4 separate regions of the Homo sapiens genome follow, and all the other regions are reported to be linked to region 1. Evidence: microRNA targets listed by miRTarBase, many of them from high-throughput screens and not tested one by one. Region 1 holds a microRNA gene; each other region holds the end of a gene's coding sequence.

What was found. Region 1 holds the annotated microRNA hsa-miR-4487 (AGAGCUGGCUGAAGGGCAG, at 1,426-1,444, opposite strand). A microRNA usually pairs through its seed, bases 2 to 8, with sites in the 3' UTR of a target mRNA and lowers its output. Matches are read on the target gene's strand: a 7mer-m8 pairs with bases 2 to 8, a 7mer-A1 pairs with bases 2 to 7 and ends in A, and an 8mer does both.
Region 2: the mRNA of ST8SIA3 is a reported target of hsa-miR-4487. Seed matches in the 3' UTR shown: 7mer-A1 at 3,007-3,013.
Region 3: miRTarBase lists ZNF250 as a target of hsa-miR-4487. Seed matches in the 3' UTR shown: 7mer-A1 at 2,117-2,123.
Region 4: miRTarBase lists IMP4 as a target of hsa-miR-4487. The part of its 3' UTR that is shown has no 7-base or 8-base seed match.

The regions. Positions count from the first base shown.
Region 1 is chr11:47,399,318-47,402,427 of GRCh38, reverse strand. It overlaps MIR4487 (microRNA 4487), which reads right to left and starts at 1,458; the gene lies at 1,386-1,458. All of the region lies in intron 2 of SLC39A13-AS1 (SLC39A13 antisense RNA 1), which reads left to right. RefSeq lists an enhancer at 990-1,990 and a silencer at 2,040-2,399.
Region 2 is chr18:57,359,964-57,363,073 of GRCh38, forward strand. ST8SIA3 (ST8 alpha-N-acetyl-neuraminide alpha-2,8-sialyltransferase 3) reads left to right here. Exons shown (of 4, transcript NM_015879.3): 4 at 32-3,110. The coding sequence ends at 314. Among named protein-coding and RNA genes, the nearest start is that of ST8SIA3, 9.0 kb to the left of the region's middle.
Region 3 is chr8:144,879,022-144,882,131 of GRCh38, reverse strand. It overlaps ZNF250 (zinc finger protein 250), which reads left to right. Exons shown (of 6, transcript NM_001109689.4): 6 at 1-3,110. The coding sequence ends at 617. Among named protein-coding and RNA genes, the nearest start is that of ZNF250, 21 kb to the left of the region's middle. RefSeq lists enhancers at 2,556-2,745, 2,946-3,095.
Region 4 is chr2:130,345,883-130,348,992 of GRCh38, reverse strand. It overlaps IMP4 (IMP U3 small nucleolar ribonucleoprotein 4), which reads right to left. Exons shown (of 9, transcript NM_033416.3): 6 at 3,060-3,110; 7 at 2,881-2,975; 8 at 2,719-2,792; 9 at 1,026-2,637. The coding sequence ends at 2,525. Among named protein-coding and RNA genes, the nearest start is that of IMP4, 4.5 kb to the right of the region's middle.

The sequences.
Region 1 (3,110 bases):
ACATATGTATGTATACCTAGACAATATTCCATTTGAATTGGCTTTTTTAAAAAAAAAACTATTTTAAGGTTTTACATTATTTAGTGAATTTAACAATTGTTTTCCTATAGGTTCTGCATAATTATTACCAAGTTTACTTCTAGATATTTTATATTTGTGGGGATATATATATATATATATATATATATATATTTTTTTTTTTTTTTTTTTTTTTTTTTTTTTGAGACAGAGTCTCACTCCGTTGCCCATGCTGGAGTATAGCACAATCTCCGCTGACCACAACCTCGGCCTTCTGGGCTCAAATGATCCTCCCACTTCAGCCTCCCAAGTAGCTGGGACCACAGGCACAAACCACCATGCTCGGCTAATTTTTTTTTGGTATTTTTTGTAGAGATGGGGTTTTGCCATGTTGCCCAGGCTGGTCTTGAACTCCTGGCCTCCCAAAGTGCTAGGGACACAGGCTTGGGCTACCATGCCCAGCCTAGAGTCTTTTATGTGGGTAATCATACCATCTCCTAATAACAAAGGTATTAGAAACAGGGAAGGAACATTGTTATTTGTAAAGATATGGCTTGGCTTGGTTTTGAACTTCATGAGAAGGGTAAGGACAGCTGTCCTTTGGCGTCCTGGCGGGGATGGGGGGGAGTTGGTTCCAAGACCCCCTGAGGATACCAAAATCCACAGATGCTCAATCCCTGATATAAAATGGTGTGGTATTAAATATTTGCATATTTAGCCTACCACATCCTCCCATATACTTTAAATCATCTCTAGATTGCCGAAAACAATGTAAATGCTATGTTAATCGCTGTTACATGGTATTGTTTGGGGAACAATGACAAGAAAAAAAGTCTGTACATGTTTAGTACAGACACAACCATCCATTTTTTTCTCCAAATATTTTCCATCCGAGGTTGGTTGAATCCATGGATGTGGAACCCAGGGATACAGAGAGCCGCAAGTATCCATCTTCTGGGACTGACTTTTTCCACTCAATACCATGGTGCAAAGATTCCTTCATGATATTGGTGAACCTGTGGGTCACCTGCTTGCATTGCTGAATGATCTCCACCCTGTGAATGTGTCTACTGTAATTTATTTATCCATTCTCTTATCAGTGGGCCCTGGGGTTATTTCAGGATTTTTTTTGCTATTAGGGACAACGTGAATATTTTTGTCCCTGTCTCTTGGCGCACTTGTCAGAGAACTTATCTTGATTTGCTGCCTGGGGGGATGTGTGGGTGACAGCCTCTGTACCTCCACTTCGTGAGATAAGGCCAGATTGCTCTCCCTAGGGGGCTATTTGGAGCCGCATCCTGACTAGCCACATGCAGGAGGGCCTGCTGCTCCCCTCCTTGCCAGCTCTGGCTGAAGGACAGTTCCCTTCTGCCCTTCAGCCAGCTCTGGCTGAAGGACAGTTCCCTTCTGCCCTTCAGCCAGCTCTGGCTGAAGGACAGTTCCCTTCTGCCCTTCAGATGGTGTAAATAGCATCTCATTGTGGTCTGAATTTGCATCGCCCTCATCAGCAGTGAGGCTGAGCCTCCCTTAGATGGTATTTGAGCAAATTCGTTTTCTCTGCCCTAACATGCCTGCGCTGCGTGTGTGTTATCTATTTTTTTATATTGGATTGCTTGATTTTCTTTTCCTTGATTTGCAAGAGTTCCTTATGTATTTTTGAGGCTATGCCCCGCTGCACTCCGCAGGCATCTCCAGTTGTGACTTCCTTTTCACTTTCTCTGAGGTGTCTCCGCTTCTCTCTCCCCCCCCCACACCTGTCCCAGGGAGGCCACTTGGCATTGTTAGTGTGGGGGGAGGTCGTGTGCCTCTCAGAGCCCTGTTTAAACTGACTCCACTGTTCCTCTTGTCCCTGGGGCCTTAAGGAACCCCTTTCCTCTTCCTTCTCAGACCCCCTCCCATTTTTGGCGAAGACAACTTAGTTTGGGGAGCTCCTATTGGGTTGTGGGCGAGTATCCCGGGACAACTCGGGCCTCACTGCAATGGTGTCCCCCCCCCCCCGTCTCGGTTATTTATCACTTCCGGCTGCCCACCTGGGGGGGCTGGGCCCCCTCTCCGCTCGACTGGGCCGCAGCCGGGCAGCTCGGGCGCTCCCCTGGGGGCGGGCGGCGCGGGGGAGGGGCCCTAGGGGGGCGGGGCCGGGGGCCGGGCCTGCGGCGGGGGCTGGAGTTGGGGGGCGGAAGCTGCCGGAGCAGATAAGGGCCGAGGTCGGCCCTGCGGTGGGACAGTGCGGGACACCGCCTCCGCCCCCGGCCTCCCCAGAGCGCCCCCGCACCCTGGAGACCCCCTCCTGCTACCCAGGCTTGGCATCCCGGGAGGAGACCCCAGGGAGCAGTGGGGGATGAGGCTCCAGCCTGCTCACAGCCTCAGCGACGAGCGGCAGCGGGGCTTCACGCCTCAGTTATCTCAGCTGGAAAATGGGGGTAGGAGCTCGGTTTTCCCCACAGGGCTGTTGGTGATGGACCAAGTGCAGGCTTGTGAAGGTCTCTGTGGGTTGGGCGAGTTTTGAACAGAGGGTCCTCTAAGCATCGCATCGCCTCATTCATCCCCATTGTATAGATGGCAAAGTGGGGAGTTTCACCCAAAGCCCCAGAGCCAGCATGCAAAAAGCAAGTGGGAGGGGGTTGGAACGCTTTCCACCGCCCCACCCTGGGGACAGATCTAGGTTCCCAGGAGCCTGAAGCTTAAAACCATTTGGGGGGGCACTCTTTAAGGAAAAGATTACAAAGTCACAAATACAAAATTGCTGAGAGGCTGGGCGCAGTGGCTCACACCTGTAATCCCAGCACCTTGGGAAGCCAAGGTGGGCGGATCACTTGACGTCAGGAGTTCCAGACCAGCCTGGCCAACATGGTGAAACCCTGTCTCTACTAAAATACACAAATTAGCTGGACGTGATGGTGGGCGCCTGTAATCCCAGCTACTCGGGAGACTGAGGCAGGAGAATCGTTGAACCCGGGAGGCAGAGGTTGCAGTGAGCTGAGATGATCGCACCACTGCACTCCAGTCTGGGTGACAGAGCTAAACTCTGTCTCAAAACAAAAAACAAAAACAAAACAAAACAAAACAAAACAGCCGTTCGCGGTGGCTCACAC
Region 2 (3,110 bases), not on the chromosome of region 1:
TCTGAATCCAAATGTACTTATTGTTCCACAGGTACTGGAAAAACAAACATTTGTCACCTAAACGGCTGAGCACAGGTATTCTTATGTACACCCTTGCATCAGCAATATGTGAAGAGATCCACTTGTATGGATTTTGGCCGTTTGGATTTGACCCCAACACAAGGGAAGATCTTCCATACCATTACTATGACAAAAAAGGAACCAAATTTACCACCAAGTGGCAGGAGTCCCACCAGCTGCCTGCTGAGTTTCAGCTGCTGTACCGAATGCATGGGGAAGGGCTCACCAAGCTGACTCTGTCACACTGTGCCTAAGAACTCCAAACGGAAAGCGCCAAATGGCTGTTTAAAAAGTGCCCCAAATCAAATTGAATAGCCTTCAGAATAGAACCCTAGAGAATGTCTTATAAGGATTGTCTGCCATTTAAAAGGAAAGATGTCTTTTCTCTTTTGCACTGCTCTTTTAAGAGTTTTAGCAGATTTAGCAGGACAGATGCATTGAAGCCACATGGTTTAGACTTGATTGATAAAGGGAATGTTGCATTTGGGACTATGCTGCTAACGAAATGGTTTGAAGTATTTTCATGTTTGGATTTTAATAATAAACTGCCTCTCATTTTTATGAGGACTAGAGCTATAGTTTCTGCAGCTCTGCTCAGATAGTCCTCATAATCAGAGGCCTCTGGCCAACTGGGGCAGGACCTGTTTTGCTGGTGGGATCAGACTCTGAAAAATGGAAACGTAAAAAACTGGTTTGCATATCTCATCTTCTATCTATCTCCCTATCTCCATCTCTATCACCATCTCACTCCTTCCCTCTGCAACTACTCCCTGCCCTACCACCGTGGAGTTTAATAATTTGCTAGGAATCCTATTGAATTCGCTTTGCTTGTATATGTTGCATTTGTACTTGATGTGTTTAAGGTTCTGGGTAACTTTGATGCTTCATGACAAAATAGGCAAATCACGATGGACTCCCTTGTGATTCCTTTTTTAAAGAAATGCCTCTGATGCAGTCCTCACCAGTCCATTCAGTCATTCTACAGCAAGATGGTCCCTCTGTGGTGAGTGGGATATAAGGCAGTGCATCTTTCATGATCACAAAGAAAGCCTATGTTGTGGATAGCATTGCGTCTCTTGATGTAGGCATTGTTATGGCAAATAATAGCACTGTGGCCACATCTGTAAGGCCATTCCAGCCTAAATTTAGTGTCTCCCATAATCCCAACCCATGCACTAGGCTGGGTGTTCTCTCAGAATATAGAGGCAATGAATCAGCTTAAGACCCTGGGACACACAAAGGAAAAGGAAGAAGAATATTTAGAAGTTGTTATGGAATCCTGTGTACCCTAAAGTGTGGTAACCATGTTACCCATTCCAGCTGGGTTAAAGTGGAGGAGGATCTTGGCCAGGCCAGGTGCCCAGGTGACTAGTGCTGAGGTGCGATCGTTTTCCGTATCATTGTGTGCACCACCACCAATCCAGAACCATTTGCTCTCTTTGAGAACATTGTAGCACTGGATATTCCCTCTTTCCACTGAAGTCAGATCTATACAACTACAAATTAAGCATTTCAAAAGAAAAAGCCATTGTGCAGTGGCAAGAGTTGGAATCCAAGATTATGTAGACCTGCGATGAAGGAAGTAGCTGGCCATTCTCATTTTCTTTATTTCAGCCATATGAGTAGAAATCAAATCATTCCCATCCCTGGCTTTTTACTGAGCAGCACTTTGTTCTTCCAATTCAGCCCAACGTCTGGCCAAGTTGATGTTAAATTTTAATAAGAGTTTCTTTCTTCTTTCCAAATGCCAGTCAAGCATATTTGTTATGCATTTGAGTGGGGTAGCTCATTCTTTTCCTGAAATCTCATCTAGATTGCTTGCAATGCGACAAATAACTGTTTAAAAAATGTGCTGTAGTTCAGTGATGAGCTCATTGCCCCTCTTTAGGAAGGTAAGATCATGCCTAAAATTAAACCGAATATGGTAAGGAAAGACACTATCGTTATGCTCACGTTCTGCCTGGTCCTAAACCTGCCTTATTATTATTTTCAGAAAGCAATCTAATTAGAGCAACTTGCATAGATCTAGATATTAACTAATGAAAGAAACACCAAGTTCAAATGTGTTACCAATTATGACACACATTACAATATAATTATAAGGGGAGACATTAAAAACATTTTGTAATTCAGTGGTATAATTTGATGGGTATCACAACCACACCGTGTTTGTTCCCTGTCCCTTTGAAGAGGACTGTACTACCATCCTCACACTGTGCTCTGTTGGGATCACTGAGAGATTGACAACTGACAGAAGTGTTTAGTTGGCTGTTCCTGAGCACTTAGTTCATTTGGTTATAGCTAAGTGATATTAATGCCAATATTACTTGGGCCAGATTCTGACTCTGGAGTTTTAATCCCAATGTGCCCATTCATTTTCACTAAATATAAATGCATAGACACTTTAAACCAAGAAGATTAAAAGAGGAAAAGACCAGAATCTCTAAAAAACAGTTTACTGTTCTGTAGTGGACAATTTAAATTTTATCTCATCATAATGCCAAGGATTTTTGTTTGTTTTTTAAGTTCAGGGAGATTTTTTAAATCTCCTTGCAGTCTTGGCTCCATCTTAACCTTAGAGTGGGAGGACTTTCCCATCCCCCACCACCGTGTTATCTATCACTTTAATGAAAACTCAAAATAGTGAGGAAATGGACTTTTCTTCAGAACTTGAGGGGTTTAGAGATCAGGCTCATCTCTGCTTATAAGGAGGACTTCCTGGAGATGATCCCAATAGATCACCCTTCACTTTTGAAGAATAGCAGCTTCTAGCTGACCATGCAAAATCTCTGTTTGTTTTTAAAGACTGTTTCAAAGATTAAATCTATACAACCACTTTTATGACCAAAAAAGTTGTTGTGTCCCAAGTGTCCTAATTAGAAAGGCAGCTGGCTCTCCTGCAGCTCCCAGGCTTGTGTAGTCAAGTGCAGTGAACTGGGCAGTAATCAGCTCAGGACCATTGGCTCTTTCCTCCTCTTTCAGCTACAGACACATGCCCTGGCTTTTGCATTGACCTTGCTTTGTTAGTTCTAGACTAATTTATCCTTTTG
Region 3 (3,110 bases), not on the chromosome of region 1:
AGCACCAGAGGATCCACACCGGGGAGAAGCCCTACACGTGCAGCGAGTGTGGGAAGGCCTTCAGCGACCGCTCAGTCCTCATTCAGCACCACAACGTGCACACCGGGGAGAAGCCCTATGAGTGCAGTGAGTGTGGGAAGACCTTCAGCCACCGCTCCACACTGATGAATCACGAGCGGATCCACACCGAGGAAAAGCCCTATGCATGCTACGAATGTGGGAAGGCCTTCGTTCAGCACTCACACCTGATCCAGCACCAGAGAGTCCACACTGGGGAGAAGCCCTATGTGTGTGGTGAATGTGGGCACGCCTTCAGTGCACGCCGGTCTCTGATCCAGCATGAGAGAATCCACACAGGTGAAAAGCCCTTCCAGTGCACAGAATGTGGCAAAGCCTTCAGCCTGAAAGCAACTCTGATTGTGCACCTGAGGACCCACACGGGCGAGAAGCCATATGAGTGCAATAGCTGCGGGAAGGCCTTCAGCCAGTACTCAGTGCTCATCCAGCACCAGCGGATCCACACAGGCGAGAAGCCCTATGAGTGCGGGGAGTGTGGGCGTGCCTTCAACCAGCATGGCCACCTAATCCAGCACCAGAAAGTGCACAGAAAGTTGTGACCCATGGCTGACACAAGAATCCATTCTCACAGAAACTGCATGTGGAACCACAAGCAGCCTTCAGCCCAAGAGAAGTCTCTGTTAACTCTATAGGAAGCTTTTCTTTGGCGATTCAGTGTCACAAAATAACTCCAGAAAGAAGCACTTAGCGTGCTGTTCCTGTGGAAAAACTTCAGAGACTACCTGTTTTATTTTCCTCAACATCTTGAAGTTATGTTGGAGAGTAATCATACAATTGTAGAGAATTTTGGTAAAAAACAGCCATAATTCTTTAACATTAGTTTATTTGAACTAAGGGAATTTAAGGCATAAGAACCATTATCCCAATAAAATCTTACATTCCAAATAAAGTTCTTTTTCTAAGAACATTACATGCCCTTCCTAAATATCAATTAACCATACTAATTATTGCACTTAAAATTTGAAAGTCGGACTATTTTCAGTATTCTCTTAAAAGACTAAAGTATTGTATGGATAAAGTGATATAAAAAGATATTTTCATCAAGCATCATGTAAAATGGTTGGAAATCCTAAGTGTGTGGATTTCCATCCTAAGTGTGTGGAGTCCTGTTTTGTATGAAACAAGGAAAAAGCTTATATATTAGTGAGAAATTACATAAATTTAAAAAACTTTTTGTATGTGTGTGTGGAGATAGTCTTGCTCTGTTGCCCAAGCTGCAGTGCAGTGGCATGATCTTGGCTCACTGCAGTCTCCGCCCCCACCCCAGGTTCAAGCTTTTCTTGTGCCTCAGTCTCCCAAGTAACTAGGATTATAGATATGCGCCACCACACCTGGCTAATTTTTGTATTTTTAGTAGAGACGGAGTTTCACCGTGTTGGCCAGGCTGGTCTCGAACTCCTGGCCTCAAGTGATCCTCCCACCTTTGCTTCCGAAAGTGTTGGGATTACAGGCGTGAGGCACCATGCCTGGCCTAGAAAACCCTTTATCTGGAGCTTTTAACTTTATTCAAGATCAGAAAGGTTATGCTAACTTTTTAGTAAAAATTCAACTCAAAAATGGGTATTTTCCTCAAAACTTGCCCTTATGACCTGCAGATCCTGTGCCCCAGAAACCGTGAGATGTCTCAATTCCCATGCAGGCAAAGGAGGGGAGCTTCACACTCAGCAGACCTCATAGCTGTTACACCAAGTGGGTACCTCTTTACATCTTATGGTATTTCCCCCAAAACAATGCTGAAAATACTGTTCTTTGGTAGATATATTTAAAACATACATTTCTCAAATTCAGATAGCTCTTTTTTACTATCTCTAGTATTTCTATTCCTATATTTGAAGGGGTTTTTTTTTTCATTTTTTTACTCCTGGTTCAAGAGTCCAGTATCCATTGCCATATTACTATGATGAAGATGAATCTAGTTTATTCATAATTAAAAATTTGTATTCAGAATTATTTGTTCTGTTTTAAGCATACTTTTTTTTTTTTTTTTGAGACAAAGTCTTGCTCTTGTTCCCCAGGCTGAAGTGCAATGGCACAATCTCAGCTCACTGCAATCTCCACCTCCCAGGTTCAAGCAATTCTCCTGCCTCTGCCTCCCAAGTAGCTGGAATTACAGGCACCTGCTACCACGCCCGACTAATTTTCGTATTTTTAGTAGAGATGAGGTTTCACCATGTTGGCCAGGCTGGTCTCAAACTCCTGACCTCAGGTGATCCGCCCGCCTCGGCCTCCCAAAGTGCTGGGATTACAGGCGTGTGCCACCGCACCCGGCCAAGGATACAGTTCTTGAAACCGAATCAGAACCATTTCTAGTAGCAGCCAGCTGCAAACGAAACAAATGTATGAGGTTCAAGCCACTTGAAATTCTCAACATGTTAAGTGCCTGAGATAGAGAAGGGCTGTCTTCACCCCAGGCCCCCGCCCCCAACATCTGTCAGTTTGGTGGGGAGGAAATAGTCACCAGGATATTGATCCTTTTTGTTTGTTTTAAAGACGGTCTTGCTCTGTCACCAGGTTGGAGTGCAGTGGTGCCATCATGGCTCACCGCTGCCTCAAACTCCTGGGCTGAAGCAGTCCTCCCACCTCACCTTCCCAAAAGGTTAGGATTACAGGCATGAGCTGCTGTGCCCATCCAGGCATTGATCCTTAAGTCCACAGCAAAACACCACGATGTAGACAAAAGCTTGTTCCCCCTTCTATGTACAGACACTGACAACAGTGAATTATTAACTCCAGAGAGGAACTGGTAACTGATTGGTTAACTTGAGAAAGGAGCTGACATCACTGGTGTTTTACTTCAGAGCAACTGAAACCACTGAAGTGAAATTCCAGAGGAACTAATATTACTGAGGTGTTACTTCAGAGGGACTGAGATCACTGAAGTGAAACCTCAGATAGCTCAGATAACCAAGGTGTTAACCTTAGAGGTGTTGCCATTCTGTGAGGTGTTGTTTCAGATAGATAAAATAACTAAGGTGTTAGTTCAGAGAAGACAAGAGCTTAACTGTTTCTTTGGAGAAGAGCTGAGATCACTG
Region 4 (3,110 bases), not on the chromosome of region 1:
TCCCGGGTTCAAGCGATTCTCCTGCCTCAGCCTCCTGAGCTGCTGGGATTACAGGCACCCGCCACCATGCCAGGTCAATTTTTTGTATTTTTAGTAGAGATGGGGTTTCACTATGTTGGCCAGGCTGGTCTTGAATTCCGGACCTCAGGTGATCCGCCCGCCTCAGCCTCCCGAAGTGCTGGGATTACAGGTGTGAGCCACCACGCCCGAATTCCTCTTGTAGGGATGTATGCATCAGATACACTTGCATAAATATGCACAGAAGTATGTTCAATGATGCTCTCGAAGCAGTATTTGTGGGGGTAAAAACAGGAAGCCACCCAACAATGTAGCCACAAGGAAGGAGGCAGATCCATGTGTACTAGACAGCCTTGGAGCCCTGTGGCATCCATTTGTCATTAAAGGGTAAGATGCAAGGTTCAGAGTAGTGTGCACAACATGATCCCTTTCAGGTTAAAATATAATTAACAGTCAACAAACTTATGGATACCATGAATAAAAGATATCAGTCCAGCTTCTTTAAAAAGTCAATACTGATGACCTCTGGAGACTAGGGATGGGTTCTTTGGGGTGGAAGGAGGATGATGGTTTACTTTTCACCATGTGCACTTGTGTGTGTTTTTAAAAATGTTTTGTAGAGATGAGCTCTCCCTGTATTGCCCAGGCTGGTCTCAAACTCCTGACTTCAAGTGAACCTCCTTGCCTTGACCTCCCAAAGCGCTGGGATTATTACAGGTGTGAGTGACTGCACCAGGCCTTCTGTATGCTTTTTTATCATAAGGATGTCTTCCAAGTGTCCGCCTGTACCCCCCCAAAAAATGGGCAGAGAACTCAAGAGGGCAGTTCTTCGTGGTCAAGTGGATACAATGTTCACCTGCTAACATTACAGTAAAGAACCTCCCTCCTCCCTGGGTACCCAGTGCACCAGCAAGGAGTTCAGCCTTCTGGGGATGATGCAGCACATACATGCAAGTGCAGGGCCCTCCCTGCCTCTTTTGCACACTGACAGCATATCACACATGGCGTTTCACACCATGCTTCTTTGTATTTAATGTCTATCTTGAGGAGCTTCTCAATGGCTATATCTACAGAGTGGGAAAAACTATTTGCAAACCATGTATCTGGTAAAGGGTTACTATCTGTCTCAACTTGGGCTGTTCTAACAAAATACCACAGACTGGGTAGCTTAAACAACAGGCATTTATTTCTCACAGCTCTGGAGGCTGGGAAGTCCAAGATGGTGGCTCCAGCAGATTCAGTGTCTGGTGAGGGGGGCTTCCTGGTTCACAGATGGTAGCTTCTAGCTGTGTCCTCACATGGCAGGAGGGGCAAAAGAGCTCCCTCGGGCATCTTTTATAAGAGCACTAATTCTATGCAAGAGGGCAGAGTCCTCAGGACCTAATCGCTTCCCTAAACTGTTGACCTTAGGGATGAGAGTTCAATATACGAATTTTTGGGGGACACAAACATTCAGGCCACAGCAGTATCCAAACTATATAAGGGACTCAAGTCAACAACAAAGAACAAATGACCCGGTGTATGCAAAAATGCTCAGTATCACCAACCGTTAGGGAAATGCAAATCAAAACCGCAATGAGAGAGATCACCTCATACCTGTTAGGATAGCTGTTATTAAAAAACACAAGATAAAGAATGTTGGCAACAATGTGGAGAAAAGGGAACCCTAGTGAACTGTTGGTGAGAATGGAAATTAGTACAGCCTTTATGGAAAACAGTATGGCGGTTCCTCAAAAAATTAAAAATAGAACCACCATTTGATGCAGCAATCCCACTTCTGGGTATACATATAAAAAAGAGATGAAATCATTATCTTCAAAAGATAGCTATACTCCCATGTTTACTGCAGCATTTCCACAACTGCCAAACTATGAAAACGACCTAAGTGTCTATTGGTGGACGGATTGGTAAGAAAATGTGGCATGTTATTTTTTACAAGGAAAGAAATCCTATCATTTGCAATAACATGGAGGAACCTGGAGAACATTATGTTAATAGAAATAAGCCAGACACAAAACAAATACCACATGATGCCACTTACATGAGGAATCAGCTGCTGAGCACTGGGTGTGGCCTGTCCCCTCCGCGTTGGCACACTGGCGGCTTCCACTCAGTGAGTTAACTTGGTGGGCTGCCCCTGACACAGGCTGGCCCTGCTACCCACATCTGCCTGCTGAAGAGCTCATATGACCCTCACTCTTGAGGGGACGTTAGCATCAAATCTCTCTCTCTGTTAACCCCCACACTGACTCCAGGCCCAAGCACGTCCCACAGCCATCAGGTCCCCACCCAAAGGGATCCCATGGGCTTTGCCCTGCAGACTTGGCCTGACCACTCAGAGGCAGGCGGGGCCATGACACAGACGGTTTATTCAGACCTCTCCACCCGCCACAGTTCCACATCCCAGTTCAGCAGGCCATTCTGTGACAGTTCCTACTGGTGGGTCTGTCTATGACAGCCCCATCCTGAGTTCCAAGTCCATGTCCTGACTGAGTGGTGAGTGTGCTCACTCGGTGCTCAGGAAGACTCTCTTGCGTGCGGTATTGGTGTAAGGGTGCCAGCGCCACTCCACGTCTGCTGTGGCCTCCTGCTCCAGCGTGCCCAGACGGATCATGTACACTGCAGGCAGGGATGGCATCAGCCCCGGCACAGCCAGCCTCCCCTCCCCACCCCAGACACGGGATTCAGCCTCAAACTCACGCTTCAGCTCAAAGCGGGGCCCGACCTCAGTGAGCTCCACGTTGCGGTGGTCTGTCTTCTTATACACATGGTGCCTGGGAGGGAACAGCTGTGGGTCAACGGCAAGCAGCACGAGGTACACAGGGTGGGGATGCTTTCCTGGGGCATGGCCCGTGGACCCACCGGAATGATATGTAGTCGTCCTGGTTTGCGAAGGTGATGACCCGGTGGCTGTCATCTTTGGGCACGGGAAATAGGTATCGGAGGATGTCAGAGACCTGGGGCACAAGGAAAGAGAGGGAAACAGAGTGGCAAATGCCTGGCCTGGCCCGCAGCCCCAGCCTGAAGGCCCCCAGACTCACCCGCTTGCCCAGGCGGGAGGAGAAGCCGTGTGTGATGAGGTGGGGCTTGGC